Linked DNA regions of Homo sapiens. The protein of the gene in region 1 interacts with the protein of each later gene in a biochemical or structural test. Each region holds a gene or a part of one and is shown in the gene's direction. Other genes may lie near its edges.

Evidence for each region. Proteins that work in one complex are often made in the same cells at the same time.
Region 2: the proteins of PEX2 (region 1) and PEX10 form a complex in vitro, tested with the Homo sapiens proteins (one study listed by BioGRID).

Annotation. Positions count from the first base shown.
Region 1 is NC_000008.11:76,996,825-77,004,715, reverse strand, and holds the start of PEX2 (peroxisome biogenesis factor 2), read left to right. Parts: upstream 1-4,637; 5' UTR 4,638-4,726; intron 4,727-7,891. UniProt on the Homo sapiens protein: E3 ubiquitin-protein ligase component of a retrotranslocation channel required for peroxisome organization by mediating export of the PEX5 receptor from peroxisomes to the cytosol, thereby promoting PEX5 recycling.
Region 2 is NC_000001.11:2,409,298-2,416,643, reverse strand, and holds the start of PEX10 (peroxisome biogenesis factor 10), read left to right. Parts: upstream 1-4,079; 5' UTR 4,080-4,141; coding exon 4,142-4,253; intron 4,254-6,192; coding exon 6,193-6,273; intron 6,274-7,346.

The DNA of each region.
Region 1 (7,891 bases):
CCTGAAGGGCAGTGAGGCTGGAGGCCACCAATTTGTTAAGAGATGGCTTAAAGTGCAAGGATAATGAGGGTTTGAATTAAGGCAAGTGCAGGAAAGATTATTAAAAGAGAGAGTGAATTTGGAGTGGTATTAGCAGGCATTATGGAAGGGGACCCAGGATATGACATTGTCCATACTCCCCAGAGTCCCCTCCACACACATAAGTCTCCCTCAAAGAATAATAATAGCAAACGAGAGCAGTGAAAAGTTAGAATTGATGGCTGTGTAAATACCCAGCAGAGGAATGGCAAGAGAGAGTCTCTGGAATGTGTGAAAAGTCCTGGTGCCCTTCTAGAGAGTTTGAATATTAGCCTGCAGATACTAGGATCTGGACAAAGTATTTAGAATGCATGATCAGATAACACTGAAGGTACCATGGTTAGAACGATAGATGCTAGCCTAGAGTGAGGAGAAATCAGAGTCTGAGAAAGGAGATAGCACTGTAGTGTATTAAAGTAAAAATTTTAATTTTCAGTTTTTATTTTACAAGGAAAGACTGATCTCTAAAGGAAACATTTCTTTTTATAATAAATACTGTTTTTAAAAGTTGAATTGTCATCAATAATTACAGCTAGCAATTGCTTGCACTGCATAATGATGTTTCAGTCAATGATGGCCCACATACACAACAGTGGTCCCTAAGATTATAATACTGTATTTTTACTGCAATTTTTCTATGTTTAGACATGGTTAGATGCACAAATACTTACCACTGTGTTACAACTACCTATAGTACTCAGTACAGTAACACGCTGTGCGGGTTTGTAGCCTAGGAGCAAAAGGTTATCCCATGTAGCCTAGGTATGTAGTAGACTACATCATCTAGGTTTGTGTAAGTACACTCTACGATGTTCACACAACAAAATAGCCTAATGACGCACTTCTCAAAACGTATCTCTATTGTTATGAATGACTGTATGTAGAGGCAGTGCTCTAAGTACCTTACATATAGTATTTGTTTAATTCTCAACTATTATTATTGGTTCAGTTTATTGTTAAGTCTCAGAGAGGTCAAGTAACTTGCCCAGGGTCATTCAGTAATGGGTAGGTAGAATTTGAATCCACAAGGTGATGTCAGAACCTGAATTCATAGCCACTGTATCATCAACACATGTTTAGTTAAATCCAGGTATGTAGAAATTATTTTTATTATGTTGAGCTTCAGAGCATGCACAGGCTCTGGAACCAGACTACCTAGGTTCAGATCTCCATTTCACCATTTAATGGCTGTGAGAAATTCGACAAGTTACTTCAGCTTTCAGTACCTGTTTCCTCATCTGTGAGTGGGAACAATAACAGTGTTTGCCTCCTAGGGTAGTTCTGAGGATTAAATGAGTGAATTTAGTAAAAGGGCTCAGAAAAGTACCTTGAGCATATTATATAACCAACAAAATTTACCTATTATCAATATTATTATTCTAACATAAAGTATTGAGAATAGTGGTATGAAACACTGGATATACTGCATGGCCCCAATTGAGATCTGAGATAGGTAGAATAATGGCTCCTAAATATATCCATTCCCCAATCCCTGTAAGCTGTGAATATGTTACATTATTACCGCAAAAGCAACTTTGCAGATGTAAATAAAAGTTATGAACCTTGAGCGGGGGAGATTCTGTCTAACCAATGGATTCTTAAAAGGCTGTAATTGGAGAGATACAGCAATGGAAGAAGAAGAAAGAAAGATTTACAAGGATGAAAGGGTCTCAATCCACCATTGCTGGCTTTGGAGACGAAGAGGGCCATAACCAAGGAAATGTGAGTGGCCTCTAGAAGCTGAAAACAGCTCTTAGCTGACAGCCAGCAAAGAAACAGGGAGAACAGCTACAAGAGCAAGGGACTCAATTTGTCCAACAACCTGAATAAGCAAAAAAAAAAAAAAAATCAGATTCTTCCCTTACCTCTCTAGAAAGGAACACAATCCTGTGGACACCTTGATTTTAGGCCATTGAGAACCATGTTGGACTTCTGACTACAGAACTGTAAGGTAATAAATTGGTGGTGGTTTGAGCTTCTAACTTTGTTACAGAAATAGTATTAATGGTAAACTAATATAAGATCCATACTTAACTTTTTCCTAAAAGACTCAAATATATTGATTTAGGAACTACATAATATTCTAGAATAAATTTAACTTCTTAAAGTCAGCATTTTAAAACTATATTAGGGACATAAATCAATGTCTTATTTACATTTCTATTGTTAAATTCTTAGAATCTAAAAGTTGCTAAAAGGCTAAAGAGGATATAAAATGCTATTATAAAATGTTTCCATCTTTTCTATGTAAAGGTTAAAAAAACAATTTTAATTTTTCTTCTTTAACTTCTCATAGTTAATGAACAAATTAACTTTGATTTTTTTCCTAATATTTTTAAGTCCACAGCCAAGTTCTAATAAAGACTCTTAACATGTCACTAGAAATATATAAATTCTAGGTTTAAAATAACTCATGTTTTGCATTTACAGAGGTAAACATTTACTAAGAAGAAAATATTCTGTCTTGGTTATTATTTACTTATTCACTGCCTCTGAACTGATATGAATTAGCTCTGAGAGAGTAAGAGCCGTGTCTGTTTTCTGTCTTCACATTTTTATCAACACTGCCTAGCAAAACTCCCGGGCCTCAGAAAGCTTTTGTTAAATAAATGAATGAAAAATAAATATATCTTTAAAAAACTGGAAACAAAGCTTCCCTGGAACCTCAGCTCACCAGCTCATGGGAAAATTAAGAAGGTATACTGTATCTACAGGTTAAACATTAAAATCTAGAACTTATTTTAAACAATTTCAACAGAATTTTAACTGTTGCATGTTTCCCCGCATTCTTAATGAGATTCATTAAATATGATTCAAGTTTCTTGATATCTTTATTATTTTCATTCGCTACTGTGTGATGTTCACATGACATACATAAGGCTCTATGAACCAGAATTTGCTTTCTGAAAATGTCCTCTATGTCAATCAAGTCTTTGTGTGTATTTTCCCCCGTCCCTCTCAAAAATTAAGTGAAGCACAGCACATCTGTAGGCTACCTGAGAGGTGCAGCGTGGTTGGTTTTCTTCACAGTTGCTAAACGAAAGGCCTACTCTTCTTCAGTGAGATTTTTTTACTCTCTAGAACAGCAGTATCCATAGAAATATAATGGAAGCCACGTAATTTAAAATTTTCCAAAACATTCTCATTTTGACATGTAAGCAATATAAAATTAATGAAATACTTTACATTCTTTTTCTTTTCAGACCACGCTTTAGAAATCTGGTGCATGTTCTACACTTAGAGCAGACCTCAGTTCAGACTAGCCACTTTTCAGGTGGCCAGTGACTACTACACTGGACAGTTGCAGCTCTAGAAAATCCACTCCCAAACCCCTAAGTGAACTACATACTCTATCAATTTGTAGCTTCTACTCTATCTCATTTGTACCATTGTTTCACAATTTGGATAGCATTAGAGTTAATAAATTTTATTTTAGCAACTCTGCTCCATGGGTAGTTTCTGAAATAAAAATACAAGCAAAAAAAAAAAAACTTTCCTAATAACACTGGTTCTACAGTATAAGCTCTCCCTCGAATGTCTAATAGAGCTTTCGTAGAAGTGAGTGTTCCTTGTAGGAACGGTGAGTCGAGACTGGAGGTAAGAACTAAGACGTTCTTAAACCCTACTACGTGCTGGAATCCTGAAGTGCCTGCCATCATTCAAACTTAAGCACTAACTCTCTAGAGAGACACTGCCATTCATACCACAGAACGAGAAGGCAGTGGCGATCCTCAACGGCTACATGTCACTGCCTGGTGAGCACTCTTCCCTCAGACCCCATTCCCAGAAGCTCTGCCTCGATTCCCCAGGGGTAGGCGAGCTGGCTGCCCGAATTCCTAAGCGTTACCGGGGAGATGTGAGGGCCTCCGGGGGCGGGAAACCTCAGGCCAGGCGCGCGCTGGCCCGCTCTACGGGGTCTCTCGGGAGCGCTTTGCAGGGCGGATGACTGACGGGCCAGCTACCTGCCTTCCTGAGCCTGCAGAGATAAACAGCCTATCCTCCCTGTGCACACAGGCCCCGAGGGCGGGCAGGTCTCCAAGCGCAGCACAACTGCCCCAGGCCCGACGCAGCCACCTGCCCGAGGGCTCCCTCCCCACCAGGCCATCCCTCAGCCGGTCCTCCTCCGACAGCGAACAAGGAACCCCGGAGGCGCGGAGGCGTCTCGCCGCCACCCGGCGGCGCCTGCCAGAGGCCCTTCGCGATGTCCGCAAGCAGAGAAAGCCCTGCCCTCCCAAGCCCCGGCTTCCCCTAGGCCCCTCGACACTTGTAGTGTCCTCACTTGCGGCCCCTGACCCGGGGCTGACCGGTTCGTGACTCTCCTGCCAATCAGAGACAGAGTTCTTCCGGCCAACCGGCCAATCACCGCGCGCGGGTGTCCGCTTCGGCTTTTCGGCCCTTCGGCTCTTCGGCTTGTCGGCGTTCGCGGTTGTTTGGCCATCCAGTGCCTTCAGCAGCGCCGCTAAAGCGCAGTTCTCGTTGGTGTAACTTTTTCTTTTTTTTTTCAGCCACTTCCGGCTCCTGCGTCGCTCCGGAAGCCTGCGAGTTCCGGAAGCCTTGGTAATCCAGATTCGGCTAGGAAAAGACAAGCTTTCCAGAGAATGTTTCAGAGAAAGTTACGTGGAGCGTGGGCGTTTCGCAGACTCCTAAGGTCAGTGTCTGCCCTAGAGAGCCGGAGTGCAAACCCGAGGTCTTGTTTTCAGCTGGGAGGTCGTGGAGTTTCACGACCTTGTAATTGTCGCCGTTTGCTTTTTTTTCCCTGTTTATTGGCTTCCTGTCTCCCTGGAAAAGGCAAATCAAAGCTGCTGAATTTTGGGAAAGGCAGTGAAGCAAACCTAAACTCCTAAAGATGTTTTTAGGATCGCGGCATTAAAAATAAACACACACACAGCTGCAGTTGAGCCCCTCTGCATTCCACGTAGTAACTTAAGAGACGAACTTCGAAATCTTTTTCTCTCATTTGGCGGTCGTGAAGATATTTACCTCTTATAAACGGCTTTATAAAGAATTGAGGATCCAAACTTTACTTAATATCTGAAAGTTCATGTAAAGTGTTATATGTAGTACAAAAAATTTGAGTGCTTAGTTTTCTAACACTGTTGAAAGCGCACGTAAATGCAGTTTGGTTTTCTTATGGAGGAAGAGATAATGAAAAGTTTCTGATAAAATTGCTTGCGATAAATTAGTTATATTTCACGTTGACTTTTGATAAGAAATCTGAATGTGAGAATTGTTAACATTTTTTCCTGGGTTCTTAAATTAAAAATCGTTGTTTGTTTATTTATTGAGGTACCATTTTCCAAATTTCCCACATTTAGTGAAAGGGCTTTTGGCAAAATGAGCAAGCTGTTGAACGTTCAAGTCTAACACATTCTGTTAAACTTCCGTGATGCCCCTCGGAAATATTTTATCTTGACGTTTCGGACAATTAAATGATACTTGGGCGCTCACAACACCGCAGCTTGTAGTCTAAACACCTTCCCCTAAAGTGTTACCTTTACTTAATCCTGAACAGAATGAACTTGGGGTGGCTCTTTTAACTTATCTGATCTCACCTATATTATCAATTACTTGTTTCCAGAAAGATTACAGTTGAGTGATCTTGAGCCAGAAAGAGATTTGAAAGAATTATTTACAGAGTCAAAAAAAAAAACCCTTCATATTTTTTTCTTAAAAAAAAAAATAGAAGTAACAGGACATAGAGCGAATACTAGACTAGTAGACTGAAGAGTATTAGACTAAATCAAGACAGTTGGATTCTAGTCCTGACTCTAGTTGCCTTTGTACAATTTTACCTCTTGGCCGTATTCTCCTTATTTTTAGAAACTAGTGTTAGTACTCAAGCTGGGGTTTTAAAACTGTTCCATAGGAGAACTTGTGTAGAAATTTTCTGGAGCCGTGCAGGGAGAGACAAAGCAAGCCCACCCTCAGGTTTATTTTAACAAGAGCAGCCATTTAGGTGTTCCGCTTGAATAACAAGGTTCTTGTTAAGAAGATTAAATTTATGTCTTAAACGAGATGATCTGCCTTTTCTTCTAGCATTAAAATTCTGGTTTTTGGGATAATTATTCATTTGTACTCAATGTACATTTATTACAGTTTTTAAAAATAATATATTCACAGCTAATTTATTTCTAAAAGCTACAAATATGTCCCTATTCTGTTTCAATTTATTTTATCAATACAAATTTGAAATGTTTTTCTTTATGAACAGAATTAGAATTTATTATTCCTTCTTCTCCATATCCTTTTATTTTAGCCATAAAAGTTTTGCTTATATTTGATGCACATAATGATTCTTGCCGTAGGGAGGACAAGTATTTTTCATTTTACATATTTGGTACCTGAACGTTAAAGGTATTAGCAGGCTTGCTCATCATCACACCCATTAAAAGAGCTCAGTCCTAGCCCCATGTTTTTCTCACAACATCAAATAATTGTAAGTTTCTTTCCCTCTTGCACACCATCCACATTCTCAGGTTCCAATAGCACAAGGAAAATGTGTGAATGTACACAATCTTTATTTCTGGCCAGAAGTTCTCTCTTGAATTATTTCATTTTTTCCTCTTTTGATGATCTGAGTTGGACAACCTAGAAGCAAATTGGATGTTCTCTGTACCTCTTTTCTGTGAAGTGATAACAGTTTGTAAATGTTTCATGTTCCTTTTCTATTCCTTTGGAATGTACAAGAAACCTCAGGAGAAAAGCCCTAAATTGCTCCATTTGCCCTGTCTGTAATCCTGCTCTTTTAAACCCAGCCCTGTAGTTTCTTTACATGGAAGTGGAGGCAAAGAAGGGATGTCTAGTGTCCTCTGCCTTTCTCCGTGTGGGATATTAGACTTCTTCCTAACATATTCCCATCTATACAATAAAAATACCTTCTTCTATGTTGCTTCTTACTCAATTTAATATATTTTCTTTTTATCAGACATCTCCCTTATTACTGCCTGTCAATAAGATGAGATAAAATTCCATCCAAGTTATCTTTTCTTTCTTCTTACTAGTAAAACAACCAAGAACTTAAGTGTAATGGTGTTTTGATTATGCCTAACCACTGTCTTTTCATTTTTTTGAGACAGAGTCTTGCTGTGTTGCCCAGGCTGGAGTGCAGTGGCACAGTCTCAGCTCACTGTAACCTCTGCCTCCCGAGTTCAAGCAGTTCTCCTACCTCAGCCTCCCGAGTAGCTGGGATTACAGGTGTGCACCACCACACTTGGCTAATTTTTGTATTTTTAGTAGAGACAGGGTTTCACCATGTTGGCCAGACTGGTCTTGAACTCCTCACCTTAGGCGATCTGCCCACCTCGGCCCACTTGTCTTTTAGTGTTAGATGAATGAGTTGGCATTACCTCTACCTTGCATGTATGTGTTCGTAATAGTTAATGTTCACACCTTGAGTTTTTCACTCATCTATTCCTTTTGTTCAGATTTGACATGGTTCTTTGAATGGTCCTTTGACCACATGTATAGTGAAGCAGGGAGAAGGAATATAGACAAAATACATCCCAAGCAACAAGGAAAACTTTACCTCATTCCTTTAATTTCTTTCCCCATCTACAGTCCTGACAGCTTGACTGGCAGTCTGGTCTTTTGAATGATCTTGAAGGGGAAAAAGATTTCTTTTGAGTTCTGTGGGATTAAATTTGATCCAAGCTTAGCAAATGTCCATTCTACTAAGTGTATTTTGTATGTTCTACAGTTTTTCTGATGTTTACCATAAATTTACTTATTACCAGCTTGACTTTAGATGGGTTGTTAATCTTCTCAAGCCTTAATTTTTATCTTCTTAAAATGGAGATGATAATACTGTACTTAC
Region 2 (7,346 bases), on another chromosome or scaffold:
CCCCATCTTGGCTCTGGGGCCTCTGCCTGACTGTGCCCACCCAGGGCTCACTTCCCCTCCCTGGGCCCAGTGCCGCCCGCTGCCCACCCTCCCCAGCTCACACTCTGCAGGTACCTCCAGGTCCTGGGTCTGCCACAGACGGGTGGAGTGCGGCTCCCAGGGCCTCCAGCCAGGCAGACGAACCCGTTCTCCTGGTTTGTGGCTGGCACTGCGAGGGGCTTCCCGAGGGCCGCACCCTACAGTCCCTGTACTCGGGGCCAGCTTGTGGGTGGCCCTTCCTCAATCCCCAAACCCATGTATAGCTAAAGAGAAGGGAGGGGACACTGCCACACCCCTGAAGCCAGAACTGCCATGCTGGGCAGGAGCCACTCCCCTCAAGCAGCACCAGCGCCCACTTTGCCCACCCAGGGACCCCGACCTGCTGCGTCCAGCTCCTGGGCCCACCCTGCCCTCCTCGGGGTCCTGAGCGACCGCTGGGTGCCAGGCAGCAACCCAGGCACAGCAGTCCCCTGTTCCGGTGGTGCTCACACCCCACCAGAGGGGGCACAGGGGGCAGCACCTGCTGGTGCGTCAGATCACCTGCGGGGCTGCCCACCGCACTGGGTGTTGGTGGGGGGATGGGGATACGAACCGTGGGGCTGCACCCCGAGCTCCCTCTCCTCCCCGGCCTCTGAGCTCCCCACAGCACCGGAACTGGGTTTAGCGGAGGAGCGCAGGCCCTCCAGAGGAAGGATGTCGGACAACACACCTGCTGCTGCTGGGCGGAAGTGGGTGAGTGTGATGGGCGAGGCTGAGAACCCTGCTCCGGCGCAGGCTTCATCTGGGAGCTTGTTGGAAATGCAGAACTGGACCTCGTCCCAGGCCCATCCACCCAGACCTGCACTGTGACCAGACCCCAGACGATGTGTGCACTGGGCAGGAGCAAAGCAGGCTCTTAATAAATACCAGCTGATTATTACCCAGTCCCATTCCACAGACCAGAAGACGGAAGCCCAGGGGAGTTCAGATGGAATGGGTGTGAGAGCCCCCTGTAAATGGCAGGGCCGGCGGAGGGCACAGCAGGCTGCGGTCAGAGGCCAGCCAGGAAGCACTGCTGTGCAGCGTCCCCAGCAGCCTGGTTTTGAAGCCGGGCGGCACATAGGCTGAGTGGCAAGAGATGGTGAGGCATATCGGGGCTTATTGATTCAAGAGCAGGCTCCTCCAGAAGGATGTAAGGCGCTGCCAACAAGAATAACGCTCGGTTTAAAGGCTGTGGTGATCCCCTGCTGGGGCCAGGCACATGGCTGTCAAGAGACCCAAGACTGGGGCTGGGCCCTGTTGGCCACTTCTGCCCAATGCCTGTGGTTGCTCTCCCTAAAATCCACAGCCTTGGCCAGGCACGGTGGCTCACACCTGTAATCCCAGCACTTTGGGAGGCTGAGGCAGGTGGATCACAAGGTCAGGAGGTCGAGACCATCCTGGCTAACAGGGTGAAACCCCGTCTCTACTAAAAATACAAAAAATTAGCCAGGCGTGGTGGCGGGCGCCTGTAGTCCCAGCTACTCAGGAGGCTGAGGCAACAGAATGGTGCGAACCCCAGAGGCAGAGCTTGCAGTGAGCCAAGATCCCGCCACTGCACTCCAGCCTGGGCGACAAAGCGAGACTCTGTCTCAAAAAAAAAAAAAAAAGAAAAATCCACAGCCTCCACCTTCCTGACCTCGATCCCCAAAGAAGAGAGGGACAGAGTTTGTGAAAAGTCCCAAGGGCTCAAGAGGAGGCTGCCACAGGGAGGCAAGGGTGCTAAGCGGCAAACGCCCCCTCCCCTGGCAGGACCCCCATGCCCCACCCCAGAACCCTGGAACCAACCAGAGCTCCCAGGTTGCCTGGTCAGCCAGGAAGGACATGGAGACCTGACTCCCGCCCCACCTCCCTGAGACCCCCTCCAGGCGCTTCCTTCCCTCCGCTGTTTCGGGCAGATGGTCGCTCCACTTCGCCAGTGGTTCTGATCTAGATTCGATTCCCTTTGGGGCAAAACTCACCGCCTAATCCCCTATAACTCTACCGGGGAGCCCGGTGGAGAGCAGACGGGCTGACGCTGCCACCTGCCGGCCATCCCAGGATAGGACCGCCGTATTCAAGTCGCCCTCAGGAAGGACCCTCGGGGCACCAGAGGCCTTCGAAGCCCCAATGAGTGAGGCAACTGAGGGTCGCGGGTGCCATTACAAGGCCCAGCCAAGGCCTAGAGCCAAGGCTTGAACCGTGGGGGACCCCCAAGCCCCACCTGCCCAGGAACAGCAGACACTGGGACACTTTGTTTCAGGTCCTGCCCAGGCCCCTCCCACTGTGAGGCTGGGATTTGTCGCCCAGGGTGCAGATGAGAAGAGTGGGGAAAGCAGTCCTGAGCCAGGACAGCGGTGGGGGATGCCTCCTAGAGCAGGCCCTCCCGTCAGGGGCCCATCATAGAACCCAGTGTGAATCCAAAGGAGCCGAAGCCTCCTCCTCAGAATCAGACGTGGAGCCATGAACCCAGGGGCCAGAGCGGCATCTCAAACTGTTATCTAAGCATTGACCAGAACACATGATCACCTCAGCGGCTCCACGTGGGCGATGCCGGGTTGCCTGGTCCACGGATGAGGGGTTCAGCCCAAGGTGCTCAACCCAATCAGAGGGCAGCCTCTGTGTCCAGGAGACACGGGTGCACCCGCGGGGTCAGAACTCCAAAGGGGCGCGGGGGCGCTGGGAGGTTTGGTAGCCAGAGGGCCTGCGGGGCGGGGCCACCCAGGCCATGCCCCTTCCCTGTAAGAGGGGCCATTCCTGCAGTGTGGGGCTCTGGCTTTGTGACTGGGCTGTGCCAGTCTGGGGATGATCCCACAGCTGAGCTCCTGTAGATGGAACCAGAGGTGAGGCAAGGAACTGGAGGCCCTCCCCACTGAGGTCAGCGGGGCGCAGACGCCCCCTTGTCGTGCCCTGCCTTCCTCCTGCAATCCTGCAGGACTCTCCAGGGCCAAGTGCTGCCCTTGGGGCCAAAAAACAGGGCCTTCTCCTTCACCTGCCCTGCAGCCATTCAGGTATGTACCAGGCATCTCCTGCCCTCCCTGGCCAGGCGGCCCCAGAGGCACAGGCCGCAGACACCGCAGGCGACCTGCGTGGGCCTCCAGTTCCCGCCCCAGCCCTTCCCACCCCCAGCTCAGGGCAGGTCCAGCTGTGGCCAGCGGCTGGGGAAGGTTCTGTCCCCTCCAGGTGTGCGGCCTTGGCAAGTGCTTCAGGCCTCCCTCCGCTCGTCCCCTGGGAGCAGAGGGATCGGAGCGCCTGCGATGTGGTTCCCCAGAGCACCTGCGGGGCTCAGGCCAGGCAGGGTGGAGGGTGGAGGGTGGAAGGCCACCTTCCGCCCGTCCTGGAACCACGCGGCGGCTTCCCGGCTGCCCCCCACCCGCCAGGCCCTGCCTCCCGTGGGCACCAGGGGGGCGTCCACACCAAGCCGGCCGTGTGCTTTTCGCGCAGGATTACTGGGGAAGGCGGCTGCTCGGGGCCTGGAAGGTCCCGGGTCTCGCCTCGTGCCCCTCTGGCCCCCAAACCGACCGGCTCCCCGGAACTGGCCAACCCGCGCTGAGAGCCCGCGCAGCTCAAAGGGCGCGAGGGCGGGACCGCCGCGGCCGGCGCTGGGAGCTCGGCTTCCCGAAGACCCAAGCGAAAGCCTCCGTCTCCCCAGCCGTAAATGGGCCTGCAGCGTCTCCACTCCGCAGCGCTGTCCCCAGTGGGAGGGCGGCCCGTGGACGTGCAGGGAGCAGAGCAGGGGCCCCTGGCAGCGTAGGACCCCGAGGTCGCAGCAACCACGCGGCCGCGAGCCCATCCCGCTGCCTCGCCAGCGCCCCTCGCGCGTGCCCCGCCCCCACCTCGGCTCGCGGGCCCCGCCCCGCTCCGCTCCGCCCTGCGCCTCCGACTACCTTCCCGCTGCCCCGCCCCGCGCTGCGCTGGTTCGGACTCCAGCCCCGCTTCCGCCCGGGCCCTGGCCCCGCCTCCAGCCCCAGTCCGGCCCCGCCCCAGCACCTTGACGCAGAGGTCTGCGCCGCACGCAGAGCCACGTCGTGCCGTCATCAGTTCTCGCCCGTCTGGGCGTGGGCGTGGCCGGCGTGGCTGCTCGGGACCACCCGAACCCGCGGCCATGGCCCCGGCCGCCGCCAGCCCCCCGGAGGTGATCCGCGCGGCGCAGAAGGACGAGTACTACCGCGGTGGGCTGCGGAGCGCGGCGGGCGGCGCCCTGCACAGCCTGGCGGGTGAGGGCCGGGCGCGGCCGGACGTCCTCGCGAGCGGCCCAGGGGGTGTTGCCCCTCATGGAGGCGGGGTGTCTGCCGTGTGTGGTCACGGTCGCCTGGGCCCGTCCCACAACCTGGGACCCGGCAGTCTCCTTCGCCTGCCCTGCGGCCATTCAGGGATGTGCGGGGCACCTCCTGCCCTCCCTGGCCAGGTGGCCCCAGAGGCACAGGCCGCAGACACCGCGGGGGACCTGCGTGGGCCTCCAGTTCCCGCCCAAGCCCTTCCCGTCCCCAGCTCAGGGCAGGTCCAGCTGACGCCAGCGGCTGGGGAAGACTCTGTCCCCTCCAGGTGTGAGGCCTTGGCAAGTGCTTCAAGCCTCCCTCCGATCCTCCCCTGTGAGCAGAGGGGTCAGAGCGCCCGCGGCGCGAACGCCTCATACCTCGGTCCGGTTCACACTGACCCCGGCCTTTCCTAGGCCTGAGCAGCAGCCCAGGCCCCTCGCCCTGCTGACCCCAGTGTAGGCTCAGCCAGGCCCTGCCTGCCTCACCAGGCCGGGAGCTGAGTACAGAAGCCAGTGTACTCAATGAAGCAGCACCTGTCATCCCAGCAGTTTGGGAGGCAGAGGCGGGAGGATCGCTTGAGCCCAGGAGTTTGAAACCAGCCTGGGCAACATGGCAAGACCCCGTCTCTACAAAAAATCTGAAAATTAGCCGGACGTGGTGGCGGCGTCTGTAATCCCAGCTCTTCAGGAGGCTGAGGCAAGAGAATCGCCTGAGCCCGAGGGATGAGGCTGCAGTGAGCCATGATTGTGCCGCTGCACTCCAGCCTGGGCGACGGGGCCAGACCCCATCACCGATTAAAAAACGAAAAAAAAAAGATGCCGGGTGTGGTGGCTCACGCCTGTAATCCCAGCACTTTGGGAGGCCGAGGCGGGTGGATCACTTGAGGTCAGGAGTTCGAGACCAGTCTACACAACATGGTGAAACCCCGTCTCTACTAAAAATACAAAAATCAGCAGGGCGTGGTGGCGCGTGCGTGTAATCCCAGCTACTTGGGAGGCTGAGACAGAATCACTTGAACCCGGGAGGCGGAGGTTGCAGTAAGCCAAGATCGTGCCACTGCACTCCAGTCTGGGCAACAGAGTGAGACTCCATCTCAAAAAAAAAAAAAAAAAAAAAAAGGCAAAGCCATCAAGTCTTTGGGGGGTGGGGCAGGCAGTCGTTAAAGGCATGAACTCCCAGCAGAACGTTTCAGGGAGCAGTGGCACTAGAGCCCAGTGGTGGGGGTGTCGTGGCCAAAGGAACAGTGCCATGGGACAGGAAGAGCATGGGTAAATATCAGAGGACAGCCAGGCTCCGTGCCGGGAGGCCCATGGGTGTCAGGTGGGCAGCCATTGGTGGATTCTGAACAGGAGAGTGACATGATGAGAATTTTTTGTGTGTGTACTTACTTGTTTTACAGTACACTTGGCACTTACCCCTGTGCCAGACACTGTTCCCAGTGTTTTACAAATATTGAATCTTCAAACATCCCTCCAAGTAGGACTTATTACTCTTCTGATAGATGAGCAAATTGAGATTCCAGAAAGACCTCACAGCCAGCAAGTTGGAGAGCTGCTTTTTGATGCTAGACAGTTGGCCTCTGGCCTGTAATCTTAATACCCCAGACCATCTTTCCATGTGGCCCTCATAGGCCCTAGAACAGTTGCTCAGGGGAATCCCGGAGCAAGAGATGAGCACAGGTGGGAGATTCTTCGCAGACTGTCTGCAGCTCACGCTAAGGCAAGTCAAGGTGGTGCCTCCGGAGACAGAAGCAGAGAGGGAGGCCAGGGAGTGAGTGTTGGCTTCATGGAAGGGGTGGGACTGGATCTGGGCCTAGACAACTGGGGGAGGACTGTGGTCCCTCATCCTCAGAGGATGCCCACCAGCTCCCCCGGACTAATACTGTTTCTCCTCTCAGGTGCGAGGAAGTGGCTGGAGTGGAGGAAGGAGGTTGAGCTGCTCTCAGATGTGGCCTACTTTGGCCTCACCACACTTGCAGGTAGAAGCTCCCACGGGACCTCAGGACTGAGGGCAGCCACACACACCAAGTCTGGGGACGGTGGCCAGGGGGCTGCCAGGCAGTGTGAGAAGCTCCTGGAGCTGGCCCGGGTGAGGTTGCTTCAGGGAAGTGCAGGAGGTACTGCTCCGAGGGAGGCGAGGCATCTGCTCCCAGCAGGGAGCCGACTTTTCCAGCCTTTGTGTGTCCCTGGGGTTCTTTGTTTAAGACTTTACCCCGGGTGCCACTGAGACCCATTTCTCAGTGGCCAGCCCTGGTGGCACCAGTGAGTCACAGTGCTGAGCCATGTCATAGGGTGCAGTGCCCGTGTGACAGTGCCCTGGTGGAGCAGTGGTGGGTCTGTGGCCCAGGCTGGTCACCACCCTTTAGAGGGAGTTGTTGACAGAAGCTCTCAGGCTCCCAACCCCAGCTCAGCATGTAGCAAGGACCACCGAGTGCCAGCCTGGTTCCCTACGAGGGGCTCGCCCCGGGCATCCTGCCGCCATGGAGAGTGTGCTCGGTGGGCGGGAGACAGATGTGGCTGCGTCACAGAGCATCTTGGGAAGTGAGGGGCTCTCAGAGATAAAGACCACGTCTTAGGGAAGAGCATTTTCCAGACCGGCAGAGCAAGCAGCCGGGAAAGGCCCTGAGAAGAACACGTCCTTGGCGGTTTGGGAGAATGACCCCGGGGGGCTCGTGAGTTTTGTAAGCCCATAGCTTTCCCTGTGCGAGGCTTGGGGCATTCCAGGGACGTGGGCAGGGGAGAGGCCGACCACTAGCTAAGACCAGACCTCAGGGGACAAAGTTGGGCTCAGGGAGACTACAGAGGCTGTGACAGTCCCCCACAGGATGGTGGTGGTACAGAGCAGGGGCGGCAGCGAGGGGGTGGAACACACAGGGAAGGTGCATGCAGGGTGCCCCTTGGGCTTGACCTCAGGAACCGGAGGCCTGGCGTTGCCATCCACAGAGATGGAAACGGGGAGCAGGCTTTTCTGGGTGGGGGCGCTGAAAGCTGTCTCGGCAGGGGTGGAATTGGGGTGCTCATCTGAGCATACATGGCGATGTCAGGTAGGTGG